Linked DNA regions of Homo sapiens. The protein of the gene in region 1 interacts with the protein of each later gene in a biochemical or structural test. Each region holds a gene or a part of one and is shown in the gene's direction. Other genes may lie near its edges.

Region 1 (7,037 bases):
AATGTGATTATACCATACAGGTGCAGCTAAGGTGAGTTCATCCTCCCTGCCTATCCTGGGTACCCACTGGGGGTAGGAGTGAAGTAGGGGTATGACAGATACCCTTACGAGATGTCCCTGCTCTGCCACTGCCTACTGCAGCCCTGCGACTCTTGTTGGATGCTGAGGGCTTCAGGCATCTATGACTGATTTTCTGGGGTTCCCTGTCTCTCTGCCAGATTCAAGTTAAGAAATTTCTTCCCACTCTTTCTTCCTTTCTCATCTCTTACCAGGTTCTGTCTCTGTGAGACCAGCTGCCCCCAGGAAGATTATTTTCCCCCCAACCTCTTTGTCAAGGTCAATGGGAAACTGTGCCCCCTGCCGGTAAATGCTCTCCCCTTCTTCTGTCAGTAATCCCTTACCGTTTCAGTTCATAAATATTAACTACAAACCTATTCTGAAAGAGACATGCCTAGCACAGTGCGTGGCACATAGTAGGTGCTCAGTTTACTGACTGAATCAATAGAATCTCGAGAGTATTAAGATAGGGCTGAACAAAGGTTTTGTGAGAACTCGGAGGAGGACATTAGTTCAACCCGAGATGTAAGAAAGACTTCTTTTTTGTTTTTTTTTTTTGAGACAGAGTCACTCGCTCTGTCACTCAGGCTGGAGTGCAATGGTGCAATCTCTGCTCACTGCAACCTCTGCCTCCCTAGTTCAAGCAATTCTCTTGCCTCAGCCTCCCAAGTAGCTGGGATTACAGGTGCCCACCACCCTGCCCGGCTAATTTTTGTATTTTTAGTAGAGACGGAGTTTTACCATGTTAGCTAGGCTGGTCTCGAACTCCTGACCTCAGGTGATCCACCCACCTCGGCTTCCTAAAGTGCTGGGATTACAGGCATGAGCCAGTACACCCGGCCAGAAAGACTTGACCCCAGAGCTGAGAGTTAGAAAAGGTGAGGCATCCTTATTCCTCCTCCTCAGGGACTCAGTGAGTTCCTTTTTTCTCAGTCAATAAATAAGCTCTCCTTTCTCCCCAGGAGTGAACCCCACACATAACCCTAGACAGTGCTCCAGTTTTGTGAGCCACTGAATGGGCCTCCATCCCCTTGGTCAGTGAGTGAGCGAGTTGGCCTTCCCTCCAGGGATTGAATAACCCGAGACAAGATATCTTTTGTTCAAAGAGCAGAGCCCCTTCCCAGAGCCACTTCTCCACTGACCAATCCCTCCCTTCTCCAGGGTTACCTTCCCCCAACCAAGAATGGGGCCGAGCCCAAGAGGCCCAGCCGCCCCATCAACATCACACCCCTGGCTCGACTCTCAGCCACTGTTCCCAACACCATTGTGGTCAATTGGTCATCTGAGTTCGGACGGGTGAGCACAGCTAAAGCAGGTGCCTGGAAAAGCCTGCTGAGGGTGAAGGGGAACCATCCAGTGTCCTGGGTTGGGGAAGCATTTTCCTCTTTATGAGTCTGTCTCTGGTCCTCATGGAACAAAAGTGGGCAGTGGTGGTATGAGAAGCAGAGGCTAATTGTCTACCCCCTGCCTCCAAGTAGAATTACTCCTTGTCTGTGTACCTGGTGAGGCAGTTGACTGCAGGAACCCTTCTACAAAAACTCAGAGCAAAGGGTATCCGGAACCCAGACCACTCGCGGGCACTGAGTGAGTAACATCTTTCCTCTCTTCCCCACCTGATCTGGATTCAAGTCTTCCTGGCCCTCCAGCCTTCATAATTAAACCCATACCTCTTTTTTGACAACTTACTCCCCTTCTCACATGAACCCCAACCCTCCCCCTCTACCCCTGACCAGTCTTCCAGTCTTTATAGTTGAAGTTGGACCACTCCCAGGCACCCTTGAATTTCCAATCATGTATCTGCTTTGCACCTCACAGTCCCTAACTCCAGCCCTGCTAGAATATGGGCTCTCCGGACTGGAAAGAATCTTAGGGGTCCTCTAATCTAACCCTCACATGATGCTTCAACTCCTCCAGATCATCTCTAACATAGCCAGAGTGTCACGCTATGTTTAAGCATCTTCAGGGATGGGAAAATCCCCCACACCCAGCCTTCATCATCCATATCCCAGACCACTTCCATGTGACGTCCCACTGGCCCCCAAAGACGCTCCACCCAGCAGCCTCTCAGCCAGAGCCATCTGTTCCTGGCCTTACCAACTCCTGGGCTTCCTCCAGCCTTGCTGACCCCATGGCTCTGGCCTCACTTTTGTTTCAGTCAAGGAGAAATTGACTGCTGACCCTGACAGTGAGGTGGCCACTACAAGTCTCCGGGTGTCACTCATGTGCCCGGTGGGTAAAAGGGGAGAAGGGAACAGGGTGGGAAGGGAGTTGGGTTTAGCCTGTGGACTTTGATGAGGGTTCCTAGGGATACTGGCGTGAAGTTTTCTGGGATGAAATCAGAGTAGGGCCTCTGACAAGAGAACTTGCTTCTCCTCAGCTAGGGAAGATGCGCCTGACTGTCCCTTGTCGTGCCCTCACCTGCGCCCACCTGCAGAGCTTCGATGCTGCCCTTTATCTACAGATGAATGAGAAGAAGCCTACATGGACATGTCCTGTGTGTGACAAGAAGGCTCCCTATGAATCTCTTATCATTGATGGGTAGGGCCATTTTGCTTCCTCTTACCTAGGACATCCACTAGAACCTCTTTTCTTGGTTATTTCTTTTTCTTTTTCTTTTCTTTTTTTTTTTTTTGAGATGGAATCTTACTCTGTTCCCCAGGCTGGAGTGCAGTGGCACAATCTTGGCTCACTGCAACCTCCACCTCCCGGGTTCAGGCGATACTCCTGCCTCAGCCTCCTGAGTAGCTGGGATTACAGGCACCCACCACCATGCCTGGCTAATTTTTGTATTTTTAGTAAAGACTGGGTTTCACCATGTTGGCCAGGCTGGTCTTGAACTCCTGACCTCAGGTGATCTGCCCACTTCAGCCTCCTAAAGTGCTGGGATTACAGGCATGAGACAACATGCCCAGCCTATAATATTTCTTTTTTCTTTTAGCCACCACCTCCTTCAGGGTTTTTAATTCATATGGCTTACTTCCCCTCACATGAACTGCAATTCTCACCTTATCTATCCCTTTTACCAGTCTGTGTGTGTGTGTGTGTATGTGCATGTGTGTGGAGGGGGAGGGCAACATTAAGGACTTAGTATATACAAGGCATCTTGCTGAGCACTTTGCATGAGTTATCTCATTGAATCCTCACAATAACCCTATGGACTCGGCTCCTACCTGTAATTCCAACACTGGAAGGCTGAGATGGGAAGATCATTTGAGGCTAGGAGTTTGAGACCAGCCTGGGCAACATAGTAGACCCTCTCTCTATAAAAAATTAAAAAAATTAGCCAGGCATGTTATAATAGCTCATGACTGTAGTCTTAGCTGCTCAGGAGGCTGAGGCAGGAGGATGGCTTGAACCCAGGAGTTTGAGGCTGCAGTGAGCTATGATTGCATTACTGCACCCCAGCCTGGGCAACAGATTGAGACCCTGTCTCAAAAAAAGAAATAATCCTATGATTGGCTAGTGACACTCACCCAGAAAAAAAAAAAGAAAAAAAAAAACCCTATGAGATAGGTAGTATCATTACACATGAGGAAACTGAGGCCGAGAGAGATTGAGCCTTGCTCAAGGTTATATTGTTAAGTGGCAGAGCCAGTGTACTGAACTGTCATAATATATCACCTATAACAACTACCTGACTTCCCACTGAGCATTGCAATAAGGTTCTTTTCAGGGCCTGGATGTTCTAATCTTTTGATCTTGCTAGTCTTAACCTCTTTTTGGAATCTACATTATGGTTCCTGTTCCCAGTGCTCCCCCACTTTTTGTTTGTTTGTTTGTTTTTGAGACAGGGTCTCGTTCTGTTGCCCAGACTGGAGTATAGTAGCACAATCATAGCTCACTGCAGCCTCGACCTCCTGGCCTCAAGTGATCCTCCCACCTTGGCCTCCCAAAGTGCTAGGATTGCAGGCATGAGCTACCATGCCTGGCCCCTAGTGCCTTTATTTATTTATTTTTACACAAGTGTTTAGAAAGCCAAAGACCCAGTGCCTTTTGGAGATGGTTTATGGACTTCTGTGTCTCTGCTCCTTTTGTTCCTTATACTACACGTAAGTGCTCAGATTTTTTTTTTTTTTTTTTTTGAGACGGTGTTTCACTCTGTCACCCAGGCTGGAGTGGTATGGCACAGTCTCGTGATCTCAGCTCATGCAACCTCTGCCTCCTGGGTTCAAGCAATTCTCCTGCCTCAGCCTCCTGAGTAGCTGGGATTACAGGCATGTGCCGCCACATCCGGCTAATTTTGTATTTTTGGTAGAGATGGGGTTTCACCATGTTGGCCAGGCTGGTCTCGAACTCCTGACCTCAGGTGATCCACCCACCTCAGTCTCTGAAAGTGTGATTATAGGCGTGAGCCACCACGCCGGCTTTTTTTTTTTTTTTTTTTTTGAGGCAGAGCCTTGCTCTGTTTCCCAGGGTGGAGAACAGTGGTGTGGTCTAGGCTCACTGCAACCTCTGCCTCCTGGGTTCAAGCGATTCTCGTGCCTCAGCCTCCTAAGTAGCTGGGATTATAGGCATGTGCCACCACACCTGGCTAATTTTTGTATTTTTAGTAGAGATGAGGTTTCACCATGTTGGCCAGGCTGGTCTTGAACTCCCAGCCTCAAGTGATTCACCTGCCTGTACCTCCCAAAGTGCTGGGATTAAAGGCGTGAGCCACTGCACCCAGCCTCAGATTGTATTTATTTTAAAACCTATTACTTACTTTGCAAAGCTCTTTTACATACCTTGTGTTATTTGATTCCAACAACTCAGAGCGGTCCAGTAGGATGGATAATGTTCTTATTTTACAGATGAGGAAACTGAGATACAGGAAGGTGAGTTACAGAACTCTGGCTACTGTTCTGCTCATCTCCCAGCCCCGTGAATTTTCATCTCTCTCTTCCCCCAGTTTATTTATGGAGATTCTTAGTTCCTGTTCAGATTGTGATGAGATCCAATTCATGGAAGATGGATCCTGGTGCCCAATGAAACCCAAGAAGGAGGCATCTGAGGTTTGCCCCCCGCCAGGGTATGGGCTGGATGGTGAGTGACCCCCTGTTCCCCAGCTAAGCTAAATCTTGGATGGCCTCTTCTCTGAGACGTAGTCTTCTTAATACCCACAGGCCTCCAGTACAGCCCAGTCCAGGGGGGAGATCCATCAGAGAATAAGAAGAAGGTCGAAGTTATTGACTTGACAATAGAAAGCTCATCAGATGAGGAGGATCTGCCCCCTACCAAGAAGCACTGTTCTGTCACCTCAGCTGCCATCCCGGCCCTACCTGGAAGCAAAGGGTATGAGAAAATAGGCTGAGTCTACAGCAAAACGGACAGGGGAAGAAGTCAGGATTGCTTTCTGATCATTGGACAAAGCCTGGGGCAAGAGAAATGTGGAGGGGACAGAGAGGGAACCTGGGGACCTGAGCTGGGTGAGGGCATCTGTGGTTTGCTGGCTGCCTCAGCTCCTCTCTACCCACAGAGTCCTGACATCTGGCCACCAGCCATCCTCGGTGCTAAGGAGCCCTGCTATGGGCACGTTGGGTGGGGATTTCCTGTCCAGTCTCCCACTACATGAGTACCCACCTGCCTTCCCACTGGGAGCCGACATCCAAGGTATGACATGGGTCATAAGATGGACCCTGCACTGCCACACCCTCCCCAGAGCTACATCAGAACCCCTGTTCCTTCTCAAAGCCTCCTGCTTCTCCTGCAAGGGGCCACAGTCCACAGTGCTTTGTCTTTTGGTGGTAAAGGGGTCAGATAGGAGGTTAATTTTGATTTTTCTTTTCCTGCCAGGTTTAGATTTATTTTCATTTCTTCAGACAGAGAGTCAGGTAAGTGGTTCTTTCTTCAGAAGGTCTCAGATCTCTGAAGCTTCCTTTCTAGACACTGATGGGGCCCCTCCCTCTCTTATGATCTCTGGGGATGTAAATCTGCTTTCCCGTGAGGGCAGTGGGGTGTAGGTATCTTATTATCTCCTCAGCCCCACTGGTAGTTCCTGAGATTCCTACTTAGGCCTCCTTCCTAGATCCCCTGTTACTTTTCTGCCCTGGCCTACTCACCCCTACCCCCGTGTGCACTTAGAGCACCATGCCTGCTCTAACCGGACATTCCACACATTTCAGACGCCCACAAAGCCAAGAACCTAACAAGTTGGAGGAGCTCTCTCAAGGCAGGGAAAGGGGAAGGGTGTAGGGAAGTAGGGGAAAGAGGGAGAGGCTCTCCTGCTTCTCAAGAGAATACCTTCGGATCCACAGGGGTTGATTGCTCTCATACGGCATTTCTGAGATGAGTGACTGGGAGGTGGGGAAGTCGGGATTGAGATCTTAAACTATGCCCTTGATTCTTCCTAGCACTATGGCCCCTCTGTCATCACCTCACTAGATGAACAGGATGCCCTTGGCCACTTCTTCCAGTACCGAGGGACCCCTTCTCACTTTCTGGGCCCACTGGCCCCCACGCTGGGGAGCTCCCACTGCAGCGCCACTCCGGCGCCCCCTCCTGGCCGTGTCAGCAGCATTGTGGCCCCTGGGGGGGCCTTGAGGGAGGGGCATGGAGGACCCCTGCCCTCAGGTCCCTCTTTGACTGGCTGTCGGTCAGACATCATTTCCCTGGACTGAGTTCCCTGGATTATGGAAACTTCGCTGTCCCCCAACACTGAGCAAGTATGCTGTGGAGTCCCAACCCCAGCTACTCTGATCCCTCTGGGGGCTCTGGCCAAGGGCCAGACAGACCTTCACAGATGCCTACTTTTGGCCTCATCTCTGCCTGACAAGGCCAGCACCCAAAGGGTTAATATTTAACCTCTTTTTAAGGACACTGGGGTCTGTTTCTGGAAATGTTCTTTAGATGGTGGCACATTCCTTTGGGTATGTTAACCTAGGCAGTGGGAGGCAAATGGGATGGTATGTGAGCTAGGAGAAGGGCTGAACCCTCAGCCTTGACTATGTCTAGAGCCTCTTGGGGAAGGGGCACCTCTCTTGAACCCCAAATGCTCTCTCTTC
Region 2 (3,367 bases), on another chromosome or scaffold:
CAATTATTTTGTAGGTGGGGTACACTCAGCTTAAAGTAATGCATTTTTTTTTCCCGTAAAGGCAGAATCCATCTTGTTGCAGATAGCTATCTAAATAATCTCATATCCTCTTTTGCAAAGACTACAGAGAATAGGCTATGACAATCTTGTTCAAGCCTTTCCATTTTTTTCCCTGATAACTAAGTAATTTCTTTGAACATACCAAGAAGTATGTAAAAAGTCCATGGCCTTATTCATCCACAAAGTGGCATCCTAGGCCCAGCCTTATCCCTAGCAGTTGTCCCAGTGCTGCTAGGTTGCTTATCTTGTTTATCTGGAATCACTGTGGAGTGAAATTTTCCACATCATCCAGAATTGCCTTATTTAAGAAGTAAAACGTTTTAATTTTTAGCCTTTTTTTGGTGGAGTTATTTAATATGTATATCAGAGGATATACTAGATGGTAACATTTCTTTCTGTGCTTGGCTATCTTTGTGGACTTCAGGGGCTTCTAAAACAGACAGGACTGTGTTGCCTTTACTAAATGGTCTGAGACAGCTATGGTTTTGAATTTTTAGTTTTTTTTTTTTAACCCACTTCCCCTCCTGGTCTCTTCCCTCTCTGATAATTACCATTCATATGTGAGTGTTAGTGTGCCTCCTTTTAGCATTTTCTTCTTCTCTTTCTGATTCTTCATTTCTGACTGCCTAGGCAAGGAAACCAGATAACCAAACTTACTAGAACGTTCTTTAAAACACAAGTACAAACTCTGGGACAGGACCCAAGACACTTTCCTGTGAAGTGCTGAAAAAGACCTCATTGTATTGGCATTTGATATCAGTTTGATGTAGCTTAGAGTGCTTCCTGATTCTTGCTGAGTTTCAGGTAGTTGAGATAGAGAGAAGTGAGTCATATTCATATTTTCCCCCTTAGAATAATATTTTGAAAGGTTTCATTGCTTCCACTTGAATGCTGCTCTTACAAAAACTGGGGTTACAAGGGTTACTAAATTAGCATCAGTAGCCAGAGGCAATACCGTTGTCTGGAGGACACCAGCAAACAACACACAACAAAGCAAAACAAACCTTGGGAAACTAAGGCCATTTGTTTTGTTTTGGTGTCCCCTTTGAAGCCCTGCCTTCTGGCCTTACTCCTGTACAGATATTTTTGACCTATAGGTGCCTTTATGAGAATTGAGGGTCTGACATCCTGCCCCAAGGAGTAGCTAAAGTAATTGCTAGTGTTTTCAGGGATTTTAACATCAGACTGGAATGAATGAATGAAACTTTTTGTCCTTTTTTTTTCTGTTTTTTTTTTTCTAATGTAGTAAGGACTAAGGAAAACCTTTGGTGAAGACAATCATTTCTCTCTGTTGATGTGGATACTTTTCACACCGTTTATTTAAATGCTTTCTCAATAGGTCCAGAGCCAGTGTTCTTGTTCAACCTGAAAGTAATGGCTCTGGGTTGGGCCAGACAGTTGCACTCTCTAGTTTGCCCTCTGCCACAAATTTGATGTGTGACCTTTGGGCAAGTCATTTATCTTCTCTGGGCCTTAGTTGCCTCATCTGTAAAATGAGGGAGTTGGAGTAGATTAATTATTCCAGCTCTGAAATTCTAAGTGACCTTGGCTACCTTGCAGCAGTTTTGGATTTCTTCCTTATCTTTGTTCTGCTGTTTGAGGGGGCTTTTTACTTATTTCCATGTTATTCAAAGGAGACTAGGCTTGATATTTTATTACTGTTCTTTTATGGACAAAAGGTTACATAGTATGCCCTTAAGACTTAATTTTAACCAAAGGCCTAGCACCACCTTAGGGGCTGCAATAAACACTTAACGCGCGTGCGCACGCGCGCGCGCACACACACACACACACACACACACACACACAGGTCAGAGTTTAAGGCTTTCGAGTCATGACATTCTAGCTTTTGAATTGCGTGCACACACACACGCACGCACACACTCTGGTCAGAGTTTATTAAGGCTTTCGAGTCATGACATTATAGCTTTTGAGTTGGTGTGTGTGACACCACCCTCCTAAGTGGTGTGTGCTTGTAATTTTTTTTTTCAGTGAAAATGGATTGAAAACCTGTTGTTAATGCTTAGTGATATTATGCTCAAAACAAGGAAATTCCCTTGAACCGTGTCAATTAAACTGGTTTATATGACTCAAGAAAACAATACCAGTAGATGATTATTAACTTTATTCTTGGCTCTTTTTAGGTCCATTTTGATTAAGTGACTTTTGGCTGGATCATTCAGAGCTCTCTTCTAGCCTACCCTTGGATGAGTACAATTAATGAAATTCATATTTTCAAGGACCTGGGAGCCTTCCTTGGGGCTGGGTTGAGGGTGGGGGGTTGGGGAGTCCTGGTAGAGGCCAGCTTTGTGGTAGCTGGAGAGGAAGGGATGAAACCAGCTGCTGTTGCAAAGGCTGCTTGTCATTGATAGAAGGACTCACGGGCTTGGATTGATTAAGACTAAACATGGAGTTGGCAAACTTTCTTCAAGTATTGAGTTCTGTTCAATGCATTGGACATGTGATTTAAGGGAAAAGTGTGAATGCTTATAGATGATGAAAACCTGGTGGGCTGCAGAGCCCAGTTTAGAAGAAGTGAGTTGGGGGTTGGGGACAGATTTGGTGGTGGTATTTCCCAACTGTTTCCTCCCCTAAATTCAGAGGAATGCAGCTATGCCAGAAGCCAGAGAAGAGCCACTCGTAGCTTCTGCTTTGGGGACAACTGGTCAGTTGAAAGTCCCAGGAGTTCCTTTGTGGCTTTCTGTATACTTTTGCCTGGTTAAAGTCTGTGGCTAAAAAATAGTCGAACCTTTCTTGAGAACTCTGTAACAAAGTATGTTTTTGATTAAAAGAGAAAGCCAACTAAATCATTATGTGCTCATTCTTTTTCTTAAGCTTGTGGATGTCTTGGATCTGGAAAGGGTTTCTGATCACTTAGAGAATTTTCAAACTTTAGGTCAACATTTTCCTTTATTGCCTTGTGGCCACTGAAATGGGAAATGTGACATTTAAAATATGACCCTGGAATAACAGTCCCCATTCTTCTCTCATTTTTAAAAGGAGAAGGTGAAGTGATGGTGATCAGAGAGATGGGTGCTAGGGAATTATAAGAACCAGGATGCTTAAAGGAGAGGTAAAATTGGAAATTGGAGACCCTTTCATTGCCCAGCTAAGGGATAAGGAAAGCTGTTTCTCTCCCATCTGCCTTCTCTGTGAAATAGGGGTCAATGGGAGGGGAGTGGTGGTCAGGTAAGTAGATTCCGTGGCAATGGCTTGTATATAACAAGACCACATCAGCATTTTATTTCTAAGCTTGCTGACATGAGTTTCAGAGAGTTTATCGGGCTGAGAGATTTCTTCTCACCTG

Evidence for each region. The genes of interacting proteins can lie anywhere in the genome.
Region 2: the proteins of PIAS3 (region 1) and SMAD4 form a complex in vitro, tested with the Homo sapiens proteins (one study listed by BioGRID).

Annotation. Positions count from the first base shown.
Region 1 is NC_000001.11:145,849,062-145,856,098, reverse strand, and holds part of PIAS3 (E3 SUMO-protein ligase PIAS3), read left to right. Parts: coding exon 1-31; intron 32-272; coding exon 273-363; intron 364-1,218; coding exon 1,219-1,353; intron 1,354-1,535; coding exon 1,536-1,641; intron 1,642-2,212; coding exon 2,213-2,286; intron 2,287-2,434; coding exon 2,435-2,595; intron 2,596-4,945; coding exon 4,946-5,079; intron 5,080-5,159; coding exon 5,160-5,328; intron 5,329-5,453; exon of another isoform or gene 5,454-5,512; coding exon 5,513-5,646; intron 5,647-5,829; coding exon 5,830-5,867; intron 5,868-6,386; coding exon 6,387-6,653; 3' UTR 6,654-7,037. UniProt on the Homo sapiens protein: Functions as an E3-type small ubiquitin-like modifier (SUMO) ligase, stabilizing the interaction between UBE2I and the substrate, and as a SUMO-tethering factor.
Region 2 is NC_000018.10:51,082,176-51,085,542, forward strand, and holds the end of SMAD4 (mothers against decapentaplegic homolog 4), read left to right. Parts: 3' UTR 1-2,867; downstream 2,868-3,367. UniProt on the Homo sapiens protein: In muscle physiology, plays a central role in the balance between atrophy and hypertrophy. When recruited by MSTN, promotes atrophy response via phosphorylated SMAD2/4.